4 linked regions of the Homo sapiens genome follow. The protein of the gene in region 3 interacts with the protein of the main gene of each other region in a biochemical or structural test. Each region holds a gene or a part of one and is shown on either strand. Other genes may lie near its edges. The genes, in order: RANBP10, ARHGEF25, PRKCG and SCN3A.

The links.
Region 1: the proteins of PRKCG (region 3) and RANBP10 form a complex in vitro, tested with the Homo sapiens proteins (one large-scale study listed by BioGRID).
Region 2: the proteins of PRKCG (region 3) and ARHGEF25 form a complex in vitro, tested with the Homo sapiens proteins (one large-scale study listed by BioGRID).
Region 4: the proteins of PRKCG (region 3) and SCN3A form a complex in vitro, tested with the Homo sapiens proteins (one large-scale study listed by BioGRID).

What each region holds. Positions count from the first base shown.
Region 1 is NC_000016.10:67,794,600-67,801,798, reverse strand, and holds part of RANBP10 (ran-binding protein 10), read left to right. Parts: intron 1-7,199. UniProt on the Homo sapiens protein: May act as an adapter protein to couple membrane receptors to intracellular signaling pathways.
Region 2 is NC_000012.12:57,607,447-57,615,399, forward strand, and holds the start of ARHGEF25 (rho guanine nucleotide exchange factor 25), read left to right. Parts: upstream 1-3,988; 5' UTR 3,989-4,448; coding exon 4,449-4,545; intron 4,546-5,309; exon of another isoform or gene 5,310-5,450; intron 5,451-5,483; coding exon 5,484-5,698; intron 5,699-5,817; coding exon 5,818-5,913; intron 5,914-5,993; coding exon 5,994-6,070; intron 6,071-6,247; coding exon 6,248-6,314; intron 6,315-6,569; coding exon 6,570-6,673; intron 6,674-6,884; coding exon 6,885-6,954; intron 6,955-7,069; coding exon 7,070-7,159; intron 7,160-7,242; coding exon 7,243-7,335; intron 7,336-7,520; coding exon 7,521-7,571; intron 7,572-7,790; coding exon 7,791-7,868; intron 7,869-7,953. Other genes in the region: probable E3 ubiquitin-protein ligase DTX3, read left to right, coding at 1-167, 1,074-1,291, 1,631-1,706. UniProt on the Homo sapiens protein: May play a role in actin cytoskeleton reorganization in different tissues since its activation induces formation of actin stress fibers. It works as a guanine nucleotide exchange factor for Rho family of small GTPases.
Region 3 is NC_000019.10:53,894,219-53,901,417, reverse strand, and holds part of PRKCG (protein kinase C gamma type), read right to left. Parts: intron 3,460-7,199; coding exon 3,307-3,459; intron 2,979-3,306; coding exon 2,790-2,978; intron 1,186-2,789; coding exon 1,094-1,185; intron 1,000-1,093; coding exon 937-999; intron 808-936; coding exon 669-807; intron 1-668. UniProt on the Homo sapiens protein: Calcium-activated, phospholipid- and diacylglycerol (DAG)-dependent serine/threonine-protein kinase that plays diverse roles in neuronal cells and eye tissues, such as regulation of the neuronal receptors GRIA4/GLUR4 and GRIN1/NMDAR1, modulation of receptors and neuronal functions related to sensitivity to opiates, pain and alcohol, mediation of synaptic function and cell survival after ischemia, and inhibition of gap junction activity after oxidative stress.
Region 4 is NC_000002.12:165,125,606-165,132,804, reverse strand, and holds part of SCN3A (sodium channel protein type 3 subunit alpha), read left to right. Parts: intron 1-1,387; coding exon 1,388-1,561; intron 1,562-2,508; coding exon 2,509-2,865; intron 2,866-4,703; coding exon 4,704-5,174; intron 5,175-7,199. UniProt on the Homo sapiens protein: Pore-forming subunit of Nav1.3, a voltage-gated sodium (Nav) channel that directly mediates the depolarizing phase of action potentials in excitable membranes.

The sequences.
Region 1 (7,199 bases), on a different chromosome or scaffold from region 3:
CTATTTTATAGAGATGGGATCTTGCTGTGTTGTCTAGGCTGGTCTCCAACTCCTAGCCTCAAGTGATCCTCCTGCCTCAAAGTGATCCAAAGTGCTGGGATTGCAGGCAGGAGCCACCATTGTCAGCCTCCCATGGATTTTGGAGGTGTGTTTTTTATCCTGGTTTAGTCCATGACCCAAGCATTAACTGGTTGTCTAGCTTTCCTGTGTTACCTAGTTTGATCCTCACAGCATCTCTGGCAAGTGGCTAGAGCAGGTGATCATCTACCTTCCCATTTTGTGAGTGAGCCCTGAGTCCCTGGGATGTTTGGTGGCCTACCCTGGCTGCAGGGCTTAGGGTGTGCAGTGGAGTAGCCTGACTTATCAGATGTCCTCGCCTGATCCTAGACACACATGTCCATGCTGCTGCTGCCTTTCCCCATTGTAGCTGTTGCATTTCTTCCCTGGGTAGAGTGAAGGAATGTTCTGTTGGATTCCTACCAGATTGCAATGTTAGGGGACAGAGCTGAAAGGTGCATGGTGCTGTGTAGGGCCAGAGAATTGTGGCATGCTCTGGGCCGGGCTTGATCAACTTACTGTTCCATTTAATCTGTAAACTTGCTTTTCTGTAGATTTGAGTACACCTCCTTTGTAAAAGGTATTTATAAACCCAGTTGTTAGTGTCATTGTTCTCCAGAACGTCCTTTGTTTTGACAATATCTTTTGGAGAAGAACACACTAAGCTAGTCTAATAAGGAAAGTTTCATGTCAAGATTTCACAGAATATTTATATATACCTACTATGTTCCAGGCCCTATACTAGGTATAGGGAGAACAGATGTAAAGCCAGCACAGATCAGCTTTGTCCTCAGGAAGCCTGTGGCCCATTCAGTAGAGAGTGGACTGAAAGTCTTTCTGCAAGAGGAGGCAGAGCCTGGGAACAGTTGGGAGGAATGAGTAGGAGTTCCCCAGTAGGCGAGACCTGTTAGACCTATGAGTCTGATGGGTAACTAGCTTGACTTCTGGGTGCTAGGCTTTCTGGGCACTCCTCAAGTATAAGAGAGCTCTGTGGAGTAGGAGGGGCTGTGTTTGAGCTAAGAGCTTGGCACAGACTGATGGGCTTCAACTGCATTTTGCCGAGTCACCAGAGCTGTGAACTCGGGGAGCGGGTCTGGTGGGGTGAGGAGACATCAGAGCACTGCCAGTGGTGCCAGGAGATAAGGGGCATCCAGGTCTGTCTTTCTAGGAAGCGAAGGAGGGCCTGAAGCTGAGGGTCCCTGGGGAGGAGCAATGTCTGCAGGCAGAGTTCATGGACCTGTGGGTGTCCCTGGCTCTTAGTGATGACACATGGAGGGTGTGGCTGGCTAGGCTGACAGATGCTCCAGTGTGACCCTCAAAATAGACTGTAACATCATCCCAGCGGCGGAGGCCTCCTGACATGTGATGGTTGCTTTACCCAAGAGTAGTAGGCCTGGGCTAGAGCACTGGAAGGCATGGAGAGGGGTGGGGGCATTTTCCTCTGTAGCCAGTGTCTGGGCCCAGGCCCAGAGCAGGGGTCTCTGACCACAGCCAGCCTTCCCTTGCTCCTGCAGCTGACTTCCTTTGGCCAGGCAGCAGTGCACTCATTCATTCATTCCAGACACCAGGGCGCAGTACCCATTGTTTTTTTTTTTTGGTTGTTGTTGTTGTTGTTGTTTTTGAAACAGAGTCTCGCTCTGTTGCCAGGCTGGAGTGCAGTGGCACAATCTTGGCTCACTGCAAACCTCCGCCTCCTGGGTTCAAGTGATTCCCCTGCCTCACCCTCCCGAGTAGCTGGGACTACAGGCGTGCACCACCATGCCCAGCTAGTTTTTGTATTTTTAGTAGAGACGGTGTTTCACCATGTTGGCCAGGATGTTCTAGATCTCTTGACCTCATGATCTGCCCTCCTCAGCCTCCCAAAGTGCTAGGATTACAGGTGTGAGCCATCACATCCATTGTTTTGTCCCAGCCTGGGCCCCAGGAGCACAGGCATGAGGCCCCACCGGTGGTGTCGAAGGGTCAGGCCACCGTATGTGTCATATCCAGGGGTGGCCTGGAGGATGGACTGTACCTCAGAGTTTGAGGAAAACATCATAGAATCATATAAGAGGTGATGTGGGCTCTGGAAAGAGGAGTTAGAGTGTTCTAGGTGAACAAAGTGAGAAGCAGATGCTTCAGGCAGAAGAAACAGTGCATAAAAAGACATGGAGCTGGCCGGGCGCAGTGGCTCACACCTGTATTCCCGGCACTTTGGGAGGCCAAGGCGGGCGGATCACGAGGTAAGGAGATCGAGACCATCGTGGCTAACATGGTGAAACCCCGTCTCTACTAAAAATACAAAAAATTAGCCAGGCATGGTGGCGGGCGCCTGTAGTCCCAGCTACTCGGGAGGCTGAGGCAGGAGAATGGCGTGAACCCGGGAGGCCGAGCTTGCAGTGAGCCGAGATCGCGCCACTGCACTCCAGCCTGGGCAACAGAGCGAGACTCTGTCTCAAAAAAAAAAAAAAAAAAAAGAGATGTGGAGCGCAGAACATGAGGTCGGTAGGGCCAGACTGAAAATACCTTGTGTGTGGCCTGGCTCATGCCTGTAATCCCAGTACTTTAGGAGACTGAGGCGGGCAGGTCACTTGAGTTCAGGAGTTCGAGAACAGCCTGGCCAACATGGCGAAACCCCATCTCTCCTAAAAATACAAAAATTAGCCAGGCGCTAATAATAGTGGTGGTGCATGCCTGTAATCCCAGCTACTTGGGAGGCTGAGGCAGGAGAATCACTCGAACCTGGGAGGTGAAGGTTGCAGTGAGCCGAGATCACGCCACTGCTCTCCAGCCTGGGTGACAGAGTGAGACTCTGTCTTAAAAAAATAAAAAAGAAAATACCTTGTATGCTGTGGCCAGGGAGCGTGGGCTGTATCTTGAGGGCAGTAGCAGTGTGGGGGGCTGTGGATCTACCCATGCTTTTGAGAGTGAAGAAAAGAAGAGACTCTGCCAGTCTGGTTCAGCCAGGCTTCTCTGGCCAAGAGCCCTTGTCCAGGGTGGGCCAGTGACTTTAGGTCTTTGGCTCTAGCATGGTTTTCTCATAGCGGTTGTCTTTTTTTCTCTTGGCTGTTCCTTTGGTATGAAGAGATGAAGGGATGGGGTGTGAAAGACTGGTAGCCAGGAGGCTTCTCAGAGGTGAGAGGACTCTGCTTGTGCTGGAGTTCTGGTATTTTGGTTTTGCCAGCTCCCATCTGAAAGACAGTAATGCCCCATGTTTTATACCCAAGCATCTCCTCTGGTGAGCCAGAATCAGCCAAAGTGATTTTCCATGGAGACCTAGAGAGCCACTGTTAATTAAGATATCTTGATTAAGATCTCACCTGCCACATTCCTGGTGTGGAGGACCATCTAAGCTTAGGCCCTTCCAGCTGAGAGACAGCTGTGGCTGGCTTCTCACCCTGGATCCCCTCACCAAGTTCCAGTCTACATGCATTGTACAGTGCTGTTGAGAACTTTGGTGCTCATATGTCATCTGGGGAAGGCGTTGTCCTGCCCGCCCTGATAAGAAGGTGCTGTCCTTGCCCAAGGTAGGTACAGGCCGTGGTTGTGCCCCATTTTCCCTTACTGCCCCCCGGAGTTGATGGTCTTACAGGCAGATGCTGAGCTTTGGGCTGCACTTCTACTCAGGTAACACATTGTGCTATTTGTGGAGACATGGAATGTTTGGGTTCTGGAACACAGGGTAGGATGTTTGGGTTCTGGAACACGGGGTAAGAGAACTGGAGTCTAGATGGTGGCCACTGTTCTTTGCTTTTTTTTTTTTTTTTTTTTTTGAGAGAGGGTCTCTCTCTGTCACTCAGGCTGGAGTGCAGTGGCACAATCATGGCTCACTGCAGCCTCGACCTCCTGAGTTCAAGCAATCTTCCTACCTGAGACTCTTGAGTAGCTGGGACTACAGGTGCATGCCATCATGCCTGGCTAATTTTTATTTTATTTATTTAATTTATTTTTTGAGACAGAGTGTTGCTCTGTCACCCAGGTTGGAGTCCAGTGGAGTGATCTCGGCTCACTGCAACCTCCGCCTCCCAGGGTTCAAGTGATTCTCATGCCTCAGCCTCCTGAGTAGCTGGGATTACAGGCGTGTGCCATGACACCTGGCTAATTTTGGTATTTTTAGTAGAGACGAGGTTTTGCCATGTTGGCCAGGCTGGTTTTGAACTCCTGACCTCAAATGATCTGCCCACCTCAGCCTCCCAAAGTGCTGGGACTACGGGTGTGAGCCACCATCCCCAGCCCTGGCTAATTTTTAAATTTTTTGTAGAGACAGGGTCTTGCTATATTTCCTAGGCTGGTCTGGAACTCCTACGCTCAATCAATCCTCCTGCCTCAGCCTCCCAAAGTGCTGGGATTACAGGCATGAGCCACCACACCTGGCCTGTGGCCACTTTTCTGGTAGGGCCTCCCTCCTCACTGTATGTTGCTACCCAGGCTCCAACTGTGAGCTGAGAGTGGGGAGCGTCGTTGCCTTCTTTATAGCTGGGGCCTTCTTGGTCAAGGATTAGCTTTTAGAGAAATTCCTAGAATTCACTTCACCTCCTGCCTTTCTGCCTTGATGGTGTTTTTGTTCTCTGGAACTTTTGGTCTTTTCCCTGTATGGGTCATGGTGTAAGGGAGATTCCTTGTTAGAAGAGAAGCAGAAGCTCATCAGGCCAGAGCACAGGAGGATGAACCTAGCAGCCCCATGTGGCAGGCACTGTGTGCCATTCCTATTATGGGACCATTGGGAAGGAATAAAGGGCTCCAGAGTGGGTCTTGTGTGGTCGGGTCAAGTTGGAAAGAAGGGACTCATCAGTGGAAGAGGGATGGATAATTATGTCTAAATGCAAAGATGTTCCTCTGCCTCTCCATTCTGTTCAAAATCCATATAAAATGTCTTTGTAATTCTAGGATCGTTGGTGTTGTGACTTGGTGGTGGAACAGAGCCTAGCCCTTCTGTCATGAAGGGGCCAGAACAAGATGCTCTGTACTATATAGGGAAGTTGGGAGGGGACTGGGGAAGCCCTTGGCACCCCTCTTATGCCATTTCTTGTTACTTAACTCTTGGAATTAGAGATGCTTGGGGTTTCAGGGGAGTTTAGTTTAGGTCAGGGGTGGCAAGTGTGAAGGCCCCAATACCCCACAATACCCTCAGCTTCTATGACCAACATTACTGATTGACAGTAGCACTTGTTCTTGTCCAGACAGAGCCCAGAATTTTTCTCAATGCACAGCACATCAGGCAGCTATAATTTACTGGTCAGAGTTTCATCATGAGATGAAATCTACTAGCCCTCAGGGTGGAGGTGGTTGGAAGATAAGTGGATAGAGGCCCAGATGGTTGAGGGCTCAGCTTATTTCTTCTAAAGGAGAGTCCCAAGGCAGAGCTGAACCAAGAGGAAAGAAACAGAGGGGTTGGATTGCTGAGTAGAACTGATTCTAACCCAGTTTATAAAGCCATGTATCTGAAATTGGCATGGACTTTTTAAAAAAATGGAATGCCCTGTTTTTATAACAACTTGCACCAGTAGTTTGTCAGTAGTTATATTTACTTTTATAAAAATCAAAATAGGCTGTGTGCTGTGGCTCACACCTGTAATCCCAGCGCTTTGGGAGGCCGAGGCAGGCGGATCACAAGGTCAGGAGTTTGAAACCAGCCTGGCCGACATGGCGAAACCCTGTCTCTACTAAAAGTAAAAAATATTAGCTGGGCATGGTGGCAGGCGCCTGTAATCCCAGCTACTCAGGAGGCTGAGTCAGGAGAATCACTTGAACGCGGGAGGTGGAGGTTGCAGTGAGCTGAGACTGTGCCACTGCACTCCAGCCTGGGCAACAGAGTAAGGCTCTGTCTCCAAAAAAAAAAAAAAAAAATCAAAATATTTTTATTTTACGTATAGAAAACATTTGTTTGTTTGTTTGTTTGTTTATTTTTGAGACGGAGTCTCACTCTGTCGCCCAGGCTGGAGTGCAGTGGTGCGATCTCAGCTCACTGCAAGCTCCACTTTCCGGGTTCACGCCACTCTCCTGCCTCAGCCTCCTGAGTAGCTGGGACTACAGGTGCCCGCCACCGCACCTGGCTAATTTTTTGTATTTTTAGTAGAGATGGGGTTTCACCGTGGTCTCGATCTCCTGACCTCGTGATCCACCCGCCTCGGCCTCCCAAAGTGCTGGGATTACAGGTGTGAGCCACCGCGCCCGGCCGAAAACCTTTATTTTTAAAAAATTATTTTATTTGTTTGTTTATTTTGAGACGGAGTTTCACTCTTGTTGCCCAGGCTGGAGTACAATGGCACGATCTTGGCTCACCATAACTTCCGCCTCCCGGGTTCAAGCGATTCTCCTGCCTCAGCCTCCTGAGTAGCTGGGATTACAGGCGTGCACCACCATGCCTGGCTAATTTTGTATTTTTAGTAAAGACAGGGTTTCTCCATGTTGGTCAGGCTGGTCTTGAACTCCCGACCTTAGGTCATCCTCCTACCTCAGCCTCCCAAAGTGCTGGGATTATAGGTGTGGACCACCGCACCCAGCCTATTTATTTTTTTGAGGCGGGGTCTCACTCTGTTGCCCAGGCTGGAGTGCAGTATTGCAATCATGGCTCTGCAACCTCCCCTCCTGCTCAAGAGATTCTCCCACCTCAGCCTCCTGAGTAGCTGGGACTACAGGCACATGCCATCATGCTCAGCTAATTTTTTTTTTTTTAAGTAGAAATGGAATTTCACCACTTGCCCAGGGTGATCTTCCTGGGCTTAAGTGATCTGCCTGTCTTGGCCTCCCGGAGTACTGGGATTACAGGTGTGAGCCACTGTACTTGGCCTTTTTTTGTTGCTGTTTTTTTTTTTTGTTTTTTTTTTTTTTTAATTTGAGGCAGGGTCTCACTCTTGTCACCTAGGCTGGAGTGCAGTGGCAAGATAGTGGCCTGAAATTTTTTTTTTTAACTGTTAAAGAATATGTAGGATTTTTTTTAGGCTGGGCCCAGTGGCTCAAGCCTGTAATCCCAGCACTTTGGGAGGCTGAGGCAGGTGGATCATGAGGTCAGGAGATCAAGACCATCCTGGCTAACACGGTGAAACCCTGTCTCTACTAAAAATACAAAAAAATTAGCTGGCCATGGTGGCACACACCTGTAGTCTCAGCTCTTCGGGAGGCTGAGGCAGGAGAATTGGTTGAACCTGGGAGGCGGAGGTTAT
Region 2 (7,953 bases), on a different chromosome or scaffold from region 3:
TGAAAAAGGCCTGCCCCATGTGCGGCCGCTTCTATGGGCAGCTGGTGGGCAACCAGCCCCAGAATGGGCGGATGCTGGTCTCTAAGGACGCCACCCTCCTACTGCCCAGCTATGAGAAGTACGGCACCATTGTCATCCAGTACGTCTTCCCGCCCGGTGTCCAGGGGGTAAGAAGACCATGGCCTGCCCTTACCCTTTGGCTTTCCCCAAGCTCTGACCTAGGAAAACCGGGTGAGGGTGAGTGTGCTTGTTAGATGTGAGACAGTCTTGCTGTCTTCCACTGTGCCCTCCTACTCAGTGCCCTGGACCTAGGAGGTCCCCGTGAGGCCCAGCCTTTCCATCCCTGTGATCCCAAGGCACACGTGAAAATCAGATATGAGCTAGGAAAAAAAAAAGCAAATCAGATATGAGAGGAAGGAATTGCATATTATTTCCTTGATGAACACAAATACTGTGCTGACATCTTGGCAGAGGTAAATTCTGTGGAGGTGGTGGCTTAGGGGAAGGGAGGCACAATAGGAAGGGATCTGACCAACCCAACAGAGCCAGGAGCATCACTCTGTAAAAACAGGAGTAGTCAAGGCCTATAGGTGTCTTCCTGCTGGACAAAGAGTAATGTGCAATTCTGGCTGCAGAGGGGTGAAGAAGCTGCACAGAAGAGTGATGGAAAATGGAACAAGTTAGACAGTGGCAGAAACATTAGGAGTATTTTCAGGTGAAGGGAAGGCTGAAAGATAGATTATTCTGTCTTCACATTTTTGCTGAGTTGTCTGGAGTGTAGGGACCAGCTAACTTCCATCACTTCTGAGAATCCATTTGTTGCTGAATGGAGACTTGAGGGATTGAGACAGCAGAAAAAATCTCTTAACACATAAGGATTATGCTCTGAAACAGGCTCTTGCTGCCGAGGCCGTATAATCTCTCCTTCTGTGGAAAGCTGTCAGCCTGTTGCTGCCCCGTTCGCATTAGCTGGGGGTGCTCAGACAGAGACTAGCCTGGATGACCCTCCTCTGGCATCTGGGCCTTAGGATGCCTGGCTGCTCACTGCCCACTCTGCTTCACCTTCCTCCCAGGCTGAACACCCAAACCCAGGAGTTCGGTATCCTGGCACCACACGGGTGGCCTACCTCCCGGACTGCCCTGAGGGCAACAAGGTGCTGACCCTGTTCCGCAAGGCGTTTGACCAGCGTCTCACCTTCACTATCGGCACGTCCATGACCACAGGGAGACCGAATGTCATCACCTGGAACGACATCCACCACAAGACCAGCTGCACAGGGGGACCCCAGCTGTGCGACCCCTCTTCATTTCCTTTCCCTTGGCTCCTCCCCTTTGTTCCATTTCCACTGAGGGACCCACCAACCCCTCGCTCACGGAGCCTCCTAACTGGAGAGAACCACTTCCAAACTGTTCAGCCATCTCAGTTTCTCCTACATTCAACCTGGTCCTGGTGTGCCCAGCTTAGCCTACAAAAATAAGCAGAACTGGGCTAAATTATCTTGGATTTGGAGGTGTCCTCCCTTAGGGGAGGTGGGGAGGTGTCTGAGCCACCTAGAATGAGGGTGAGCATGGGGATAATAGCAAGTTCAAACAGCTAACAACCCTCACCCTCATTTCTCTTTGCTCCCAGGTTTGGGTACCCAGACCCCACCTACCTGACCCGGGTGCAAGAGGAGCTGAGAGCGAAGGGTATCACAGATGACTGAAGGACATCGCCTTTGCCAAGGCCCCTGCTGTCTGCCTCTACTAGGACCCAGCAGAAGCCTCTTTCTCCTCTCTGCCCCCTGCCCCCCACACCACACCTGTAGGGGACCTGTCTGACTGGGAAGGGAGTTCCGAGAGGGAGGGGGCAATCCCTTCCCCCATCCCCCACTGGCCAAGTGTTTCAATGCAGTGTGAGCCACTCCCTTCTGGCAGAGGCCGACCTCCAAGGCTCTGTTCTCCCCTCCCCGTGTACATATACTCCCGGTTTCCCTGCCCCTCCATTGCCCTTGGCTTTTTCTGGTATGTGCTGTGCTCCACGACCAAGCCGAGAAAGGACCTAGGGTGGGGAAGGGAGGGTCTCTTGATTCCTAACCGCCCCCACATACTGCTCCACCGCTGAACTTCGGGTGCCGGGGAGGAGAAATTGGGCTGATGTGAGCTCCCCGTCACCCGCCATGGAGCCGGCTGTGTGTGTTCATCAGATACAGTTCTCCCTTAACCTTGTCCTTTCTCTCCTGTGTCTCAGTCTCCGTCAGTCTGTCTTTCTCCGCTCTTCTCTGACCCCTGTGAGGAACCTCCTTACCCTGTTCTGGAATCGCTGCCAGACTGTAGCTTTTAATTTAATAAAAATAAAGTAAAATATGCAACTCTTTATGCCACACCCGTTCTTTTCCAGGGACTGGGTGGGGGTGGGGTGGGGAGAGGGACCTGCTGGAAAGGGGAGAGGGGATGATGGGGTGATCCCTGCGTGCACTCCCAGTCCCTCTGCCTCCTGAGGACCTGGGGAAACGGGATGCACCAGCGGGCTCTGTAGTAACACTGAGAAACCCTGGGTCACTTCGATGTTGGAATTAGTATTAAGAGGGTGTTTTTTTGTTGTTCAACTATGGTTGTAGAGAAAACAACCCTAGCCACTCTGCGAAGTTTGGCTGGGGTGGGAGTGGGGGCGGAGCCGGGCAGGGGGCGGATTCCGCAGCAGCAACTCCCCGGACGCGCGCAGGCCTCAAAGCCCCCCAGCTTCAGTGCCCCCTCGACCCTGAAACTTGGAGCAGGGTGGGGGTTCAGTATGAAGCCCCCGGACCGCCCCGCCCCTGGCCGCACTGACCGGATACTGGGGGTCATGGGGGGCATGCTGCGCGCATGCGCCCTCCCTGGGCAGGAGGGGGTAAGAATGGGGGCTCGCGGTGGGGTCGGGGGTCTTTCGGGGCCTTCAGGAGGGCTGCACCCACAACTCAACTTATCCGAAAACGAGTTCTGCGGGGCAGTCGCAGGAATACATGAATTCTATTACGAGGGCCATAGCCCCGTTCTGGGCGAGCCTTTTATAACAATGTGGGTTTTGACAGGTAGGAGAAGGGGAAGGGGGAGGTCAGGGCTGCCTAGGAGGGCAGGTTCCTTACAGTGGTTCTGTCCCCGCAGCCCCCAAGGAGAAGCCCTCTAGGGTTGGTGGGTACCGAGCCAGAGTCTGAACGTACGGAGGGAGATCACAGAAGGGATCGCGAACATGAGGTCCTCGCCGGGGCTCTGCAGCCCGGTAAGAAGCTGGGGGTGGGGTGGGGCACAGTTTGCTATCCTGCGCCAAGTGGCGAATTCAAAAATATTCTATTCTTATTAGCATAAAGTTCGCATCTAATTTGCATGAGACCCATTTAATCGCAGAGACCTCCACTCTTCTTGCCTTCGAGTCCAATGTGTGTCCCCCATCCCAGTCGATCCCGAGCCCTCGCAGGCAGAGTGTCCCCGCGCCCCACCCCTGGCCCCTCGCCAGCCCGGGCTCCAGGACTTCGCCTTAATTGGCGATTAGTCTTAGCTGGAGTCCCGGGGCCTGGAGGAAAGAAGGGTCCTGAGAGAGGGCGGCATCTGGGTTGTGTTCACCCACAAAAGACTCCCCATACACGCACCCCGTACCAGGGGGCCTCTGTCCACTCGGCCGGGGACAGCCCCAAACCCAGAACATCTTCGCACAGGCCAAGGCCCCATCCACTGAGTCCTCCTTCATCGCAGAGGCCAAGGGGAGACCTGGGCAGACCCTGCAGACAGGCTGAACCCCGACCCCAGCGCTCCGCAGAGCCCGGGATGCGAGAGGGAGGGGGACCCCGGGGCAGGGGAGCACGGGCTGGGGAGGGGAAAAAGCGCTGGGGACGTGGAGTGGGAACGTGGTGGTGTCTGGGGGAGGGGCGATCGGGGCGGGAACCCGGCGCAGGCAGGAGGGGGAACGCGATGGAGAGGGCGGAGCTGGGCCGCAGAGGCCCCGCCTCGTGGCGGCCCCGCGGCCAGGCCTGTTATTCAGCTCTCCGCTCCGCTGGGACCCGCACAGCGCCAGTGGCTCGGGGGTCGGCCCTCGCCTCCTCCCCGGCCCGGGCCTAGAGCCACCCCTAACCAGAGGCCGGAGACAGCTGGAGCGGCTGCCGCATCCCGGCCCAGCCTCCCCTACCATCCCTCCCCCTTCCACTGGACATCTGGACCCTAGGCCCCCGCACCGACAGGGTTCCGGAAACCCTCCCCGCCCAGCCCGGCGGCCGGGCCCCGCGCCTCTCTCTCTCTAGAGCCCCCAGCCCTCCTCAAGACTAGACTTCCGCCTACCCCTGGACACCTCCTCCCGGTCCCCTCCCTCCCCCCCTCCCACAGCCTGGACCGGGGTAGGAGGGAGGGGGGGTGTGCGCCCGGCGCCGTCCCCGCCCCGCCCCCCGTGATTCCCCCTGCATGGCCGGCCCGGGTGGGGGGCGCGGGGGGGCCCGGGCGCCATGCGGGGGGGGCACAAAGGGGGTCGCTGTGCCTGTCCCCGTGTGATCCGAAAAGTGCTGGCAAAATGCGGCTGCTGCTTCGCCCGGGGGGGACGTGGTGAGTGCCAGGTCGAGAGGGTCCAGTGTTGAGTGGGGGGCGGGCTGGGGGTTCAGGGCATCTGTTTGCCCTGGCCCTTGGGATTTAGGGTTGGAGACTGTATGTGTTTTCCAGGAAAGTGGTTTCTTAAGTGATCCCTAAGGTCCCTTCTGCCTCCAAATTTCTGTTAGTTCAAGTTAAGGAAATAGGGGAAGGGGCAGGGAACTCATCTCTTTCCCTTTGTCAAATGGGTTTGAGAAAAACCCACCCACAATCCCCTTAGGCCTAGAACCGATTATTTTCCTCAAACCTTTTGCTAAGAATCTACTTCTGAAGAGGGACAGGAGAATGGAGGAATGAGAATGAGGTGGTTCTACAAGGGGCTTTATAAGGAATCACAGCTCTCTGTCGCTGAGCACAGGCCAACGATAACCCTGATGGACCCTCCTCACTGGCCTCCTCTATTGGGTCTACGCATGTGTTGGGGAGGTGGGCTGCAGAAGTCTTTTCTTTTTATAGTGATTACTGCAATTGGTGGAGGAGGGGACTGGGAGTGGCAGATGGACCCAGCTCATCCTCCCCTCTTCCCAGAGAATGGTCTGTACCCATTGAAAGAGGGAGGGTTGTAGGAGAGCAGATGGCCACCCCCAGCTTCCAATGTCTGCCCAGATGGCTGCCCCCACCCCCATATCTATGCTATGCTCAGGATATGGGGAACCTCCACATGTAACTGGGGGTTCCAGGCCTGGAGAGCCAGGCGTTTACCTTACTGTGCTTTCTCCCAGGGGTGCCCTGGTGAAATTTTCTATCCTGGCCAACTCAAATGAGGATGGCAAGAGAGTGAGCCCTTGGAGAGAGAGGCTGAGCATCATGAAGAGAAGACCCTGGGAGTTCCCTGGGGACCCTGAGTCTGGAGCTGGGGCAAGGTCTATCACCTCCTCTCTTTTTCCTCCCATTAGAATCCTATTCCATTGCGGGCAGTGAGGGGAGTATATCGGCTTCTGCTGCCTCCGGTCTGGCTGCCCCCTCTGGCCCCAGCTCTGGCCTCAGCTCTGGCCCCTGTTCCCCAGGCCCCCCAGGGCCCGTCAGTGGCCTGAGGAGATGGTTGGATCATTCCAAACATTGTCTCAGTGTGGAAACTGAGGCAGACAGTGGTCAGGCAGGACCATATGAGGTGAGCAGGGAACGGCACCAAAGCATGTGGGACATCTATGAAGGACACTGGCAGAGAGGGCAAGTTGGGGCCACCCAGCTACTGTCCCCGACCTCTGACACTTGATTTCTGGCCCCCAGAACTGGATGTTGGAGCCAGCTCTAGCCACAGGAGAGGAGCTGCCGGAACTGACCTTGCTGACCACACTGTTGGAGGGCCCTGGAGATAAGACGCAGGTGTGAGGACAGGCTCTGGGGAGGCTCCTTTCACTCAAGGGGCATTCGTTTGCTCACCCTAGGATGTTCTTTCCTTCCAGCCACCTGAAGAGGAGACTTTGTCCCAAGCCCCTGAGAGTGAGGAGGAACAGAAGAAGAAGGCTCTGGAAAGGAGTATGTAAGTGTCCACAGCCCTTCCCTGCAGTTGCACAACTTCCAGAAGACTGTCCCTCACATTTTAGATGGAATTTCCTCCAAGGTTGGCTATGATGATAAAGGGGAGGAGGGAGGAACGGGCTGAACCAAGGATGAGCTCCGACGCTGAAGTGGGGGCCTCCTCCTGCTTTCATCCTAGGTATGTCCTGAGTGAACTGGTAGAAACAGAGAAAATGTACGTGGACGACTTGGGGCAGATTGTGGAGGTAGCTCCCTTTACCCCTTCCCAGCCCCTCCTGCCTGCTTTTCCATCTGCCCAGGGCTATTTTCAGGAGGTGCCTGGGCGCTCCTCTGTCCCACCTCTCAAGCCTCCCCACTCCTGGACCTTCCTACTCTGGGGGCAGGGCGGCTCCCACCAGGGAGGGGGAGGTGGAACACACCCTGGATTTGTGTACAGGAGCACCATTAAGGTGGGGAGAGGGCCACCACATGCTCATGACCCAACCTCAACTTTCCCACAGGGTTATATGGCCACCATGGCTGCTCAGGGGGTCCCCGAGAGTCTTCGAGGCCGTGACAGGATTGTGTTTGGGAATATCCAGCAAATCTATGAGTGGCACCGAGAGTGAGTGGTGGAACTCTGACAGCTAGGTGCTGGAGAGGGGCCCTCATCTGGTTGTCCTGTATCCTAACATCAGCCCATTGCGACTTAAGGAATGTTTGGAGAAGTTTTGTAGGGCACACTACCAGGGCAGACAGCTCGAAACTGCTGGGAGTGGGCGAGGTGGGGGTTGTGAAATGTATTTGACCTGCTGCTTCTCTACCAACCCCTCCAGCTATTTCTTGCAAGAGCTACAACGGTGTCTGAAAGATCCTGATTGGCTGGCTCAGCTATTCATCAAACACGTGAGGCTTGAGGGGGCAGGGCCTGGGGCGGGGCTTAGGAATGGGCTGGGATTCTCTGGAGATGCGTCCTCCCTCCTTGCCCACCCTGCTCTCTCTTAAACATTACCCCTGTTAGGAGCGCCGGCTGCATATGTATGTGGTGTACTGTCAGAATAAGCCCAAGTCAGAGCATGTGGTGTCAGAGTTTGGGGACAGCTACTTTGAGGTCAGTAGCTGAGATGTCTTGGTGGGAAGGAGGACAGAACTGGGGCTTTCCAGGCTGCATAACCACCCTGTCCCTGTCCCCAGGAGCTCCGGCAGCAGCTGGGGCACCGCCTGCAGCTGAACGACCTCCTCATCAAACCTGTGCAGCGGATCATGAAATACCAGCTGCTGCTCAAGGTCAGGACCCCCTTTTTCCTGGGGGCACAGCTGGCTGGCACAGCTGTTTCCTCATTCATCTCCCCAGGGTTCTTAGGGCTCCCCCAGACTTCCTGAGGGCCCTCACTGGTGTCCTCAGGGGAGGATGTGAGAGCTTCTAAGGGTGTCCTCGTGACCTCCCTGAGCATTTCTTCTCTCTGTCTTAGGATTTTCTCAAGTATTACAATAGAGCTGGGATGGATACTGCAGACCTAGAGGTGAGGACCCCAGATCTTCCAGGACACACCATGTGCTCCTTATCCTCCTAGTATCTCATGGGTTCCCCCAGCCCCTTGGGTGGTTTACAGCTGTCTGGTTTTTAGGGGGAGGCTGGTTGGGGTTGAGATACCGTCTGAAGAGGCAACTGGCCGAGGAGGCCTCTTTCCCAATAATGACTCTCTTCGCCCAACAATGCGCCTCCCTCACCTGTGTCCCAGCAAGCTGTGGAGGTCATGTGCTTTGTGCCCAAGCGCTGCAACGATATGATGACGCTGGGGAGATTGCGGGGATTTGAGGTACGGAGATAGGGCAAGAAACTGGAGGCCCGATGCTCTTCTGCCCCAGCCCTAGCATTCAGGAGGTCCTTATGGGGAGTTGTCT
Region 3 (7,199 bases):
CGCATGCCACCACGCCCGGCTAATTTGTGTAATTTTGTTAGAGATGAGGTTTCACCATGTTGGCCAGGCTGGTCTCAAACTCCTGACCTCAAGTGATCCACCTGCCTCAGCCTCCCAAAGTGCTGGGATTACAGGTGTGAGCCACCGCGCCCAGCTGATCCTGCCCTCTTGAAAAATGCAGCACAGAAGTCCAGTACACTTACATCAGAGAAACACGTACAACACAGGAAATAAGCTTCCATCCAACTGAATACTCCAGGGAGAGCCCTGCCCAGTTTAAAGTATTCAGAAGATAGTCCGGACATGTTCAGTGTTGGCAGGGGACAGGCCACACCCACTCAGAGTACACTAGAAATCGTCTGCCCCTTCTCAGAAGGATCCAGGGTCAGGTCCTACTTGGAATTCCTACGAGCTGGTCCCACTCTCCTGGAACATTCACCCACAGGTGCTGCCCACCTTACCTATTTAGAGACCCAGCTGGGCCCACCTGGCAGGCTCAGTGCCAAGCTCACCTGTGCTGGAGGCTGGAGGAACGACTGGCTGTGTAAGAAGGCCACAACTCATGACAAGGTCTGAGGGTCAGGCCTCACCCGTGGTGAATACTGGACCATCAGCTACACCCTCTAAGGGATCTCAAAGCGTGACCAGAGCAGCAGGGTTGGGGTTACCTCCGGGGCTATGTAGTCCGGGGTCCCGCAGAAGGTGCGGGTTGTCGTCCCGGGGAAGACGTTCTCCTTACACATGCCAAAGTCAGTGATCTTGATGTGTCCCTCAGCATCCAGCATCACATTGTCCAGCTTCAGGTCCCTGGACGATGCAGGGGTGTGGGGCAGGAATTGCAAGAAGTGTTGAGTTCAGCAGTCTAGAGCCACATATTCAAATCCCTTCCCTTCCAGGGGCGTGATTTCCTCCACGGAAATTCCTGGGGCTGCTCACCTGTAGATGATGCCCTGATTGTGAAGGAAGAAGAGGCCGATAGCGATTTCTGCCGCGTAGAACCTGGAGGACGGGGTGGGTGGGGACGTCAGAAGGTCAGTGGCTGGATCCTGCCCCCTTCCACCACCCCGACCATTCTCTGTTGGCCGAGACTCACGCTGCATGGGGCTCCTTAAACTTGCCCAGCTGTTGAATGTGGTACATCAAGTCTCCCCCGGTGACGTACTCCATCACGAAATACAGGCGGTCCTGCGGAGAAGTGCATGGGCTTAGAGGCGGGATCCATCTACCCAGAGTAGGAGAATTTCTTTCCTGATCACTCAGGACAGACGTGGAAGGTTCCAGATGCACCCAACCAGAAATTCAGAGCACCTAGCCACATCCCTGGGAGGGCCCTAAGGTGCTAATCCTGCTACCTCAGAATCTCCACCCGCCAGACCACCGCCAACTATCAGACCACGTGTTCTGGCCCCGCCTTCTCAGAATTGAAGACTGAAGCCCACCATTCGCTCGAAATCCGGGAACACCAAAATCTCTTTCCACAGCCACTCACACACAGATGCAATTCTGGCTTCCTACTAAGAATCAAAGTTGCAGCTGGGCGTGGTGGCTCACGCCTGTAATCCCAGCACTTTGGGAGGCCGAAGCGGGTGGATCACCTGAGGTCAGGAGTTCCAGACCAGCCTGGCCAACGTGGCGAAACCCGGTCTCTACTAAAAATACAAAAATCAGCTGAGTGTGGTGGCGGGAGCCTGTAATCCCAGCTACTCAGGAGGCTGAGACGGGAGAATTGCTTAAACCCGGGAGGCGGAGGTTGCAGTGAGCCGAGATCGCGCCATTGCACTCCAGCCTGGGGGACAAGAGCTAACTCCTTCTCAAAAAAAAAAAAAGGAATCAAAGTTGCTCATACATATATTTTAATCCAGGTGGCTGGCCACTCTCATTCGGAGCCCCTGGAAGTAAAGTCACGCCCTCTTAAAATCTTGCAGGTTCTGACTCTCTGCCCCTAAGTCGCAATCCTAAGGAAATAATGTCCTGTTTCTGATGTGTCCTTCAGTCAGAATCCAAAAGTGATGACCCCGTCACTCGGAGCCCAATTCTGGGCAGGCCCACTAGGAAGGCACCCTCCTCCACTGTGCCCCTTTGCTGAAAATTCCAGAGCACTGGCTACAGCCACTCAAGACCAAGCTCCCCAGGGAAACAGGCATCTGGCCACTCCCCCCAAGAGCCCATCCACCTGGCCACGCCCCCAAGGAACTCAACCGCTTCACGACACCTCCGCAGGACCCATTCACCTGGCCAGGCCATGCCACCGAGGAACTCACCGCCTGGCCACGCCCCCGAGGAGCTCATCCGCCCGACCACGCCCTCCGAAGAATCTACCTGCCTGGATACGCTCATTCATAATCTCGTCTGCCTGGCCTCGCCCCCAAGGAGCCAATCTGCCTGGCCACGCCTATTAATGATCCCATCGCCTGACAAAGCCCGCCCCTCTAAACCACCCCCCCAAAGATTTCATCCGCCTGACCACGCCCCGCGAAGAGCCCCTCTGCCTGGCCACGCCCCCGATGAGTCCCTCCACCTGGCCACGCCCCCGAGGAGCCCCTCCACCCGGCCTCGCCTCCGTTGAGCCCCTCCGCCTGGCCACGCCCCCCGATGAGTCCCTTCGCCTGGCCACGCCCCCCAAGGACCCCCCCCCGGCCACGCCCCCTGAGGAGACAATCCGCCTGGCCTCGCCCACTCAGAGAGCACAAAGTTCTCTTGCCTCGCCCTAAACTCAGAATCCCAACGCAGATGTCCAGAACTGGATAAGGCAGGGCCCGGAGGACAGCCTCCGCCCCCTCCATCCTTACCGGGGTCTGGAAGGTGGAGTGGAGCTGGGTGAGGAAGTGGGGCCGGCCGCCAGGACCCCGGCCCCCCAGCGCCAGCACACGTTTCTCCACCAGCGTGCAGTCCACATCGTCGTCCTGGACGATCACGTCCTTTTTCAAGATCTTGATGGCGTAGAGCTCATCAGAGCCCCTGCGCTCGGCCAGCATCACCTATGCGCACAGTTCCAAAAGGGCCAGTCCATGTTGGGAACCCAGTGGTACAGGACCTGCCCCCTCCCTAAGGGACGCAGGGAAACGGGATCCCAGGCCCTTCCTCCATCTCTTAAGGGACTGACAGCCCTGACTTGCCGCCCGTCCCCTCAAGGAGAGTGTCCACATCTGTAAACCTCTCCTCTCCAGGAACCTGAACGGCCCAACCTAACCATATTTGAAGATGCAGGAGCCCAGTCTCTTCCCACCCCCACTTCCTCCCTAAGAACCAGAAATCTGACCTTCCCACAGACATCCTCCCTTTCCCCCAGAACCCCAGGAATCCAACCTTCCCAAAACTGCCTTTTCCTAGAACCATGAGGAAGCTGAAGTCGGAGATGTGCAGGCGTCCTGGACTCGCCCCGAAGAAGCAGCGCTTGGGGTCGGTGGGACTAGGGGAAGGGGAGGGGATGGGAGAGGAAGAGGGGCCCATCCGCACCCGCTGTGGAAAGGAGAAAGAAAGAGCCAGAGGCAGTTAGACCTTACACAGCGATAAGGAAATGCTCCCAAGAGACACAGCACCCAAGAAAGGAAAGGATGAGAATCGCTAGACAGAGGAAAATGGCCACCCTCCTACCCTGTCCTTGGCTTAATTTTCTCTGACTCCCCATAGCCTGGAGGGTTTATTTATTATTCAACAAACACTTAGCTCTTTTTTTCTTCTTTTTTTTTTTTAGATAGCTTATCATATGCTGTTTCCAGAAAACCCTGCTATCGTTTCCATTTTACAGAAGAGGAGACTAGCACAGAGACGTTAAGTAACTTGCCCCAAGTCACACAGCAGGTAAAGGACAGAGCCAGAAATGAAACCCAAGCAGTCCAGCTCTAGAATCTGGTTGCTCTTAGCCTCTAAGCCGGAATTCCCTAGAGGGTTTGGTAAAACAGATTGCTGGGTCCCACTGCCAGATTTTCTAACTCTATAAATCTGGGGTGGGACCTGAGAATCGTTATGTGTAAAAAGCTTCTGGGTGACATGGGTGCTGCCAGTCCAGGGAGCACACCTGGCTTTCAGCTAGGGTCCCTTCTCTACCTTTTCCTGCCTCGGCCCCCCAGGGAGGGGGCCCAAGACTAAGCTGCTGTCACAGCTTCCACACTTGTCCCTCTACATGGACGGCTGCCCTTTCTAATGCATTCTCTACTCAGCAGGCACAGGAGCCAATTTAAAAATAAATAAACCAGGTCATGTCTCCCCTATGCTTGTAAACCCTTTAACTGCTCCCTCTGTGTTAAGATTTTATTCCACATGACTTGCAGAGCCAGGCTGAGACTGACACTGCAGGTTGTTCTTCTCTCTCCCAGGCTCCATGGTCCAGCCACCCTGGCCTGACACTCATTGTCCTCCCTCCCACCTCAGGGCCTCTGGATGTGCCGTTAGGTCTTCCTGTAAAGCTCTCCCCTCCCCTTCCCTCCTAGTTGTCTCCCAAACACCCTTTAGACCTTGACTCAAGCATCACTTCATAGAGGCCTCGCCTGACTTTTTAAACTGGGTCAGATGCCTCTCTTACCACCCCTTGGTCACCATGGACAGCACCTTCCTGGCACTTTTATTCTTAGTAATTTACATCTATCTGTGTGACTATCTGCTTTCTGCCTGTGAGCTCCCTAAGGCAGGGGTCTGCTTTGTTCGCTAAGACACAGTAACACTGCCTACCTCATTGAGGCTACATAAATATTTGTTGAGGGCTGGGTGCGGTGGCTCATGCCTGTAATCCCAGCACTTTGGGAGGCCGAGGTGGGCAGATCACCTGAGGTCAGGAGTTCAAGACCAGCCTGGCCAACATGGCGAAGCCCCATCTCTACTAGCAATATAAAAATTAGTAGGACATGGTGGCACATGCCTGTAGTCCCAGCTACTTGGGAGGCCAAGGCAGGAGAATCGCTTGAACCCGGGAGGCAGAGGTTGCAGTGAGCTGAGATCGCTCCACTGCATTCCAGCCTGGGCGACAGAGCGAGACTGTGTCTCAAATAGATAAATACATAATAATAATAATAATAATAATAATAATAATAATAATAATAATAATCAGGGCTGTTTCTGTTTGCTGTGTTGTTAGCCCCGTACCTAGCTCAAGGCTTGGCACAGAGTTGGTGTTCATTGGTAATATTAAGTGGTGCCTGCTGAACTGTGGGAGAGTGCTGTGAGCCACAACAGGCACACACACCACCCTACACTCCCTGCCTCTAGGCCTTTGCCCACCATCTGCCCTGCTGGGTTTCTTGGGTTTGTACGGGAGGATCATCCCTGCTGATCTCAAAAGACTCTACCTCTTTGGCTCAGAATGTCCTCCCGCTGGTACCCTTGTCTCCTGCAGAGCCCATTCTCTCTTTTTTTTTTTTTTCTGAGATAGAGTCTCGCTCTGTCACCCAGGCTGTAGTGCAGTGGCACGATCTCGGCTCATTGCAAGCTCCACCTCCCAGGTTCATGCCATTCTCCTGCCTCAGCCTCCTGAGTACCTGGGACTACAGGCACCCACCACCACGCCCAGCTAATTTTTTTGTATTTTTAGTAGAGACGGGGATTCACCGTGTTAGCCAGGATGGTCTCGATCTCCTGACCTCGTGATCCACCCGCCTTGGCCTCCCAAAGTGCTGGGATGACAGGCGTGAGCCACTGCGCCCGGCCGCAGAGCCCATTCTCAAACTTAACTTTGCAAAAGGATCACCTGAGGAATTAATTTAGTAGGCAGACATTTGAGGCATCAGAGAGATCGTCACTGAGTAGGTCTGCAGAAAGGCTGGGGAATGTGCTTTTAAAAGCAAGCACTCTAGGAATTCTGATGCAGGTGAACCCCCACACACAACATTAAAAACTCTGGTGAAAGTTTCTGTAAGAGTCCAGTAAAGACTATAACATGTTGTTGCTGTTGTTGAATCTTGAAGATTCTTGTCTTCTTTTTTTTTTTTTTTTTTTTTGAGACAGAGTCTCCCTCTGTCATCCAGGCTGGAGTGCAGTGGAGCGATCTGGGCTCACTGCAGCCTCTACTTCCCGGAATCCAGCAATTCTCCTGCCTCAGCCTTCCGAGTAGCTGGGATTACAGGCGCCTCCACCATGCCCAGCTGATTTTTGTATTTTTTAGTAGAGATGGGGTTTTGCCACGCTGGCCAGGCTGGTCTCAAACTCCTGACCTCAGGTGATCCGCCCGCCTTACTAGGATCACAGACATGAGGCATCGTGCCCAGTCTATCATATGCTTATATATTTTGTTTAATGTCTTCCTCCCGGTGTAAATCCCATAAGGAAAGGAACTTTTTTGTTTGTTTGTTTGTTCTTTCCCTGCTTTCTCTATATCCCCAGTGAGTAGAGCCACGCCTGGCACACAAAGATGCTCTGTAAAGTATTTTTTGAAAGGGTAAATGAGGGAGAGAGCATTACTTCCTCCTGCCTGAAAATCTGGTCTCTCCTTTGGGAAATCCCGCCCTTCTACCAGGTCTCACCTCTCTAGGAAGCTTTCTCTGACTCAGGCTGTGCCAGGGACGCCCCAGTGCCTGAGGCTGTCTCCATTACAGCAGCATTGCTCCTCGTTGTGAATGTCTGGGTTTGTAACTTTGTCCTCCACTAGAAGAAGAGCTCCACCAGGGAATGGCCTGATTCTATTCCCAGAACAGGGCCTGGCTTATGACACCCTAGAAAATGGGTATTCGTCTGGGCGTGGTCGCTCACGCCTCTAATCTCAGCGCTTTGGGAGGCCAAGGCGGGTGGATCACTTGAGGTCAGGAGTTCGAGACCAGCCTGGCCAACATGTCGAAACCCCATCTCTACTAAAAATACAAAAATTAGCCAGGTGTGGTGGTGCGCTCCTGTAATCCCAACTACTCAGGAGGCTGAGGCAGGAGAATCACTTGAATCTGGGAGGCAGAGGTTGCAGTGAGCTGAGACTGCATCACTGCACTCCAACCTGGGTGACAAAAGGAGATTCTGTCTCAAAAAAAAAAAGAAAGAAAGAAAGAAAGAAAAAGAAGGATATTCAGTGAGTGAATGAATGAATGGAGAGATTAAGATGATCATGCTTGATAGATTTTTTAAAACTCAAGAATCGGCTGGGTGTGGTGGCTCACGCCTGTAATCCCAGCACTTTGGGAGGCTGAGGCGGGTGGATCACCAGGTCAGGAGATCGAGACCATCCTGGCTAACACGGTGAAACCCCATCTCTACTAAAAATACAAAAAATTAGCCGGGCATGG
Region 4 (7,199 bases), on a different chromosome or scaffold from region 3:
AGCTCTTTAGTTTAATTAGATCCCATTTGTCAATTTTGGCTTTTGTCGCCATTGCTTTTGGTGTTTTAGACGTGAAGTCCTTGCCCATGCCTATGTCCTGAATGGTAATGCCTAGGTTTTCTTCTAGGGTTTTTATGGCTTTAGGTCTAACTTTTAAGTCTTTAATCCATCTTGAATTAATTTTTGTATAAGGTGTAAGGAAGGGATCCAGTTTCAGCTTTCTACATATGGCTAGCCAGTTTTCCCAGCACCATTTATTAAATAGGGAATCCTTTTCCCATTGCTTGTTTTTCTCAGATTTGTCAAAGATTAGACAGTTGTAGATACGTGGCATTATTTCTGAGGGCTCTGTTCTGTTCCATTGATCTATATCTCTGTTTTGGTACAAGTACCATGCTGTTTTGGTTACTGTAGCCTTGTAGTATAGTTTGAAGTCAGGTAGTGTGATGCCTCCAGCTTTGTTCTTTTGGCTTAGGATTGACTGGGCGATGCAGGCTCTTTTTTGGTTCCATATGAACTTTAAAGTAGTTTTTTCCAATTCTGTGAAGAAAGTCATTGGTAGCTTGATGGGGATGCCATTGAATCTATAAATTACCTTGGGCAGTATGGCCATTTTCACGATATTGATTCTTCCTACCCATGAACATCGAATGTTCTTCCATTTGTTTGTATCCTCTTTTATTTCATTGAGCAGTGGTTTGTAGTTCTCCTTGAAGAGGTCCTTCACGTCCCTTGTAAGTTGGACTCCTAGGTATTTTATTCTCTTTGAAGCAATTACTTGGAACCAACCCAAATGTCCAACAATGATAGACTGGATTAAGAAAATGTGGCACATATACACCATGGAATACTATGCAGCCATAAAAAATGATGAGTTCATGTCCTTTGGAGGAACATGGATGAAATTGGAAATCATCATTCTCAGTAAACTATCACAAAGACAAAAAACCAAACACCACATGTTCTCACTCATAAGTGGGAATTGAATAATGAGAACACATGGACACAGGAAGGGGAACATCACACTCTGGGGACTGTTGTGGGGTCGGGGGAGGGGGGAGGGATAGCATTAGGAGATATACCTAATGCTAAATGACGAGTTAATGGGTGCAGCACACCAGCATGGCACAGGTATACATATGTAACTAACCTGCACATTGTACACATGTACCCTCAAACTTAAAGTATAATAATAATAAAATAAAATAAATAAAAATAAATAAAAATAAAAAATGAAAATAAAAAAACTAAGACTTGAATTGATTTGTCACATTCTCTCACTTTAAATTTTAGATATTTTTATTCCTGTTAATGTTCTTCTTTATAAATTCGTGTAGCATCAGTGTTTTTCAGTGCTCTTGAAGTAGTGCTGATCTCTATTTTTTAGGTCTTTACTGGGATTTTCACAGCAGAAATGGTTCTCAAGATCATTGCCATGGATCCTTATTACTATTTCCAAGAAGGCTGGAATATCTTTGATGGAATTATTGTCAGCCTCAGTTTAATGGAGCTTGGTCTGTCAAATGTGGAGGGATTGTCTGTACTGCGATCATTCAGACTGGTATCTATTTATATATATCCCTGTCGCTCATTGGCACAACATTTATTTTGAAATTGAATCAATGTATATTTATATAATTATTAATTTTAATTTTAAATTTACATCAATATGTGACATTCTAAGAAAACATGTAAACATCCTCTTTAAAGCTAAACCATTTTCTAAGAATGATGAAAGCATTCAAAATACTCTATAATGATTAGGTATGTAGGGCACATTAGAAAACCTACAAGTACTTTCTAAAACTGTGTTTTAAGTTTATGAAGCTTTTTTGGCCTTACAGTCTGTAAAGATACGCAAATAAAAATTTAGACCCCAGTTAATTTTAGCTTTTTATTAACCCTACTTCTAGGAATGGGGACTGTTTTAAAGCAACATGTGGGAAAATATTTGATGTTATTAGTATCTTAAATAATTGTATAAAAAACTTTTTGAATTATCACAAAATTTTATTGAGAAATATGTAAAATTTATTGAAAATTAAGCAAAATGTGTATTTTTTCAATTTTTTTCCTGTACATTTTTATCACATTATTTAGGTTATTTTACTTTTATATTGGCCTATAAAAATCTATGATTTATACTTTTAATATTTCTTTTTACTGTCTAAAATAGAATCTGAAGATAACATTTATTTGCTAATTTAAAAAGTCTCTAATCAAAATACCATTTGTTTACATGGGCATATCTTTGGATGAATCAGAAATGTTTTATTTATTATTTCTGAAATGTTTTATTTTTATTTTTGCACTTAAATGATATTATGACCAGATTTACAATTCTAATATTGTTAACACTATTTTTTCTGGATTTGAAATTGAATCAGTTCAGTATATTTTGAGTTTTTACATCTACCACGTGTGGTTCTATGATACCACATACTAATAAAATAATGTCTAAAATTATATTATGATTACTACTAACAGCATCTTTTCACTTGATTACAGCTTAGAGTTTTCAAGTTGGCAAAATCCTGGCCCACACTAAATATGCTAATTAAGATCATTGGCAATTCTGTGGGGGCTCTAGGAAACCTCACCTTGGTGTTGGCCATCATCGTCTTCATTTTTGCTGTGGTCGGCATGCAGCTCTTTGGTAAGAGCTACAAAGAATGTGTCTGCAAGATCAATGATGACTGTACGCTCCCACGGTGGCACATGAACGACTTCTTCCACTCCTTCCTGATTGTGTTCCGCGTGCTGTGTGGAGAGTGGATAGAGACCATGTGGGACTGTATGGAGGTCGCTGGCCAAACCATGTGCCTTATTGTTTTCATGTTGGTCATGGTCATTGGAAACCTTGTGGTATGTATGTAGTACAAATGCTCATAAATTAGAACAAGAGCAGACAGTAGCTAGGAACGTGGCCAGATGTAGTAAACATATCTCTGGTTTATAGTAAGTGGCCTAGACTGAAATCCCCCTATTAGCACTCAGAGAATAAGCAAGTTATTTAACTTCTCCTGGGCTCTGGTTTCCCATTTTTTATGACATTGGAATAATAAAACTGAAATCATATCTTTAATGCAAAGATTAAATCAGATGTATTTATGAATGCCTGGGGGCATAAATATTAGATTTTCCTTTCTTCTTCAAAGAAAGTAAATTTTTATCACTAAGAAGAATTGTATCCTAATATTGTTTTGATAAGAAAATGACCTCTACTAAATCTAAAAAGACAACTATCTATTCTATAATCAAATTGCTCTTTGCATGTTCATAGTTCATGTAGTTTGCTTACTTAGAGACATAGGTTGCATAGTACCAAATTTTGAAGACACATTTCAATGAAGTAGACCATTATATTTTAGCTATGCATTGTAATTATCCAAGTAACTTGGAAGAGGACAAAATGTTTTCTTCCCTGAATTTGCATTACTATAGGAAAACCAATTATTACAGTTTAAATTATTCATATGTATGGACATTGTCCAGACTCAAAGGAGTTACTTTTAACTGTGACTTAAAATCACTAATGCAAAAGCATAGTTTATATATTTATATGTTTAATGCTTAAATTTCTCAGTCATGCGTGGGCAAAGCATTTCTTTATGCCATCATATTGGGCCTTTCCTTTGAGGGATACATTTCAGATAAACTTGTTCAAAAGAATGCTACTGGGATACCTACGAACATGTAATTTTTTTCTCCAGAATAGTAAATTAGGGAGCTCTAGATTCTGAAAAAATCTGATACAGAAGTAAGGAAGCAAACTGGGGCTTTTGCCTTGCATGTCTTCCTATAGTGTAACATATTCTGAAACTCAATAACTAACTACATTTCAGGCTAAAAATATTATTATAAATTTTCTTTTACATCAGAAATAATGAATTATTCCTGCATTAACCATAACTTATCAGTTGGCTGAGTAACTTTTTCACATATCCCATGATATTCTGAAAGTTAAAATCGCCTCATACTTTCTACACACACACACACACATACACACAAAGAAAGAAAGAAAAAGAAAAGTAACTTATGTGGGTCTAGCCTAAACCCTGGTATACTTTTAGATTTCTCTCCATCTGTTGAGCTATTTGAACATATAAATTTCAAAGTGTATTTGATGGGAAACGTGTTAAATCGTATATAATTTGCACTTAGAAATTTCTGCTGTTATAAAAGTTTGTGGCCATTGGGCCAAAGGAATTTGTATTTCAAGTATATCATTTGGAACATATCATCAGGCTATTAAATAAATAAGTTCATTCTTTATATACACGAAGCTAGAAATTCCCTAGGAAAAAAAATGGTAAGATGAAGTAAGATAAAATGATTAAGAAGAAAGTATCTTTCTCTCTCTCTCTCTCTCTCTCTCGTTGGCAGAATCCTTGAGGGTAGGATTTTGTCTTTGCACTGGCAAACCTGAGTAGACACCATTTAAATCTTAGAAGCTCTGCTTTCCTATTGTCCCTCCCAATAGGAAAAAAAGAAGAGGTGCTTGTTTTATCATTTTGCCCTTAGAGCAGGATATTAGGTCCTTTAAAGAGTGTGTGACTTAGACATGGCATCTGAAATATAGTAAGCATTCAATAAACATTTGTTGAAATAATTTTAGCAAAGATCTATGAGTTCCCTTTTTAGGCTGTTATTTAAATGCATATTTCAATATTAAAATAGACATTTTTCTTTTTTTCTTTTAGGTTCTGAACCTCTTTCTGGCCTTATTGTTGAGTTCATTTAGCTCAGACAACCTTGCTGCTACTGATGATGACAATGAAATGAATAATCTGCAGATTGCAGTAGGAAGAATGCAAAAGGGAATTGATTATGTGAAAAATAAGATGCGGGAGTGTTTCCAAAAAGCCTTTTTTAGAAAGCCAAAAGTTATAGAAATCCATGAAGGCAATAAGATAGACAGCTGCATGTCCAATAATACTGGAATTGAAATAAGCAAAGAGCTTAATTATCTTAGAGATGGGAATGGAACCACCAGTGGTGTAGGTACTGGAAGCAGTGTTGAAAAATACGTAATCGATGAAAATGATTATATGTCATTCATAAACAACCCCAGCCTCACCGTCACAGTGCCAATTGCTGTTGGAGAGTCTGACTTTGAAAACTTAAATACTGAAGAGTTCAGCAGTGAGTCAGAACTAGAAGAAAGCAAAGAGGTAAGAATGCTTTTAAATTTTTTGTTCCATTTCCTATGATAACCATGTACTACAGTTATTTACTATTTTCATTGTGCTTATATGCATTATCAAAAAGCAATATTGAAAGTCATATGTCTATAGTGATGTTGGAAAATCACAAGATACTCTTTATTGGGAAATGGATTTCTAAAAATTCCAATTTTTCACAGGAAATTAAACCATTCTGAGTCTTTAGTATATTCATTTTCTTGATCATTTGAAAATGTGGTTAAAAAATGTGGCCTTTTAGGCTGGGCATGGTGGCTCATGCCTGTAATCCCAGCACTTTGGGAGGCCAAGGAGGCAGATCACTTGAGCCCAGGAGTTCGAGGCCAGCCTGGGCAAGATGGCAAAATCTCCTCTCTACAAAAAAAAATACGAAAATTCACTGGGCATGGTGGCACATGCCTGTAGTCCCAGCTACAAAGGAGGCTGAGGTGGGAGGATTGCTTAAGCCCAGTAGGTAGAGGCTGCAGTGAGCCACGATCACATCATTCTACTCAACCCTGAGTGACAAAGCAAGACCCTATCTCAAAAAAAAGTAGCCTTCCAAAAAAGAGATGTTATTTAGTACATTACACTCTCAACTACATTATGTTCTTTAAAAAATAACTTATTTTCGTCATCTCCTTACTCTCTATATTAGGTTTTGCTATGATTTTTATGTGAAAACTTTATGTACTTTTGTTAACCTCTGAAAGTCTTATTCACTATGATAGTGTTTCATTTATGAAAGTGTTATACACATTAGGAAAGTACAAGTAGTACTTATTATATTTTGCCCAGTCAAGGATGAGCAGATCTATAGTCTTCCAGAGTAACTTGAAAATACTAAGAACTACTTTTAAAAGCTTCACTTGAGGGCTATAGTTATTTTGTAGGTTAATAAACCTACTCTTACTGTTGTGTTACTAGGAAAGAGAAAAAAGAAGGAAGGAAGGGAGGGAGGGAGGAAGGGAGGGAAAGGAGAAGAGGGAGGAAGGACGGAAGGAATGAAGGAAGGAAGGAACGAAGGGAGGGAGGGAGGGAGGGAGGAAGGAAGGGGAAAGAAAGGGAAAGAGAAAGAAAGAAGGAAATAAAGAAAAAAGGGAAAGAGAAAAAAAGAAGGAAAGAAAGAAAGAAAAGAAGGAAGAAATAAAGAAAGAGAAAGAAAAGAAAAAGAGAAAGAAAGGAAGGAAGGGAAGAAAGAAAGAAGAAAGGGAAGGAGGGAAGGAAAGAAGGAAGGAAGCAAGGAAGGAAGGAAATTGTTCCTACTGCATGATTAGTATTCTTAAGTTTCTATCATAGTAGTAATGTTATTAATTCTTCAATCCTGTGTTGTGGAAAAGAGGATTAAAATTCTTTACTATTATTTATTTATAGACGTTTAATACATATGAGTACAAAGTAAGTCTAGCACAGATGGAGTTATCAAAGACAGGTTTTGGCTTGAGGGTATAATGTTGACACAGTGGGAACCAAACCAACAATGTCTGATTTCGTGAGCATATTTTGGAACTCTTTTTTTTAAATAAGTGTATCAACAAAACTTGATCTGAAATCCCTATAATAGGTAGCTGACAATCTTACAACTCATAGCTTCCTGACTATTTTCAGGTATTTTAGAGTTGCTGAAAGATAGTATAATAATAAGTTGGAAAATATTTTGAAAAAGGTAAAATACATACAAAATTAAGTAGTGATATTTTTTCTCTGAATTCCATTTAAAGTCTGCTAAGTGAGTTCAACTCTAATTTATGTTGCTCATTCTGACAAACTAAGAATTCAACTCTAATTTTATTTCCCATCACCTGGCATGAATTTATGTAAGAAGAAATACCAGTCAATTAACAAGAACTTACTGAGCACTTTTTGTGAATTCAGCAATCTGCTGGATACTAGGGGTGAAGGAGAGCTCTATAACAAAACTCTCCTTCAAGGAAATCTTGACATATTTGAGTAAGCTAACATGAACTCATGAAATTATTAAAGACCTATTAAAAACTTTAATCCTGGCTGGGTGCG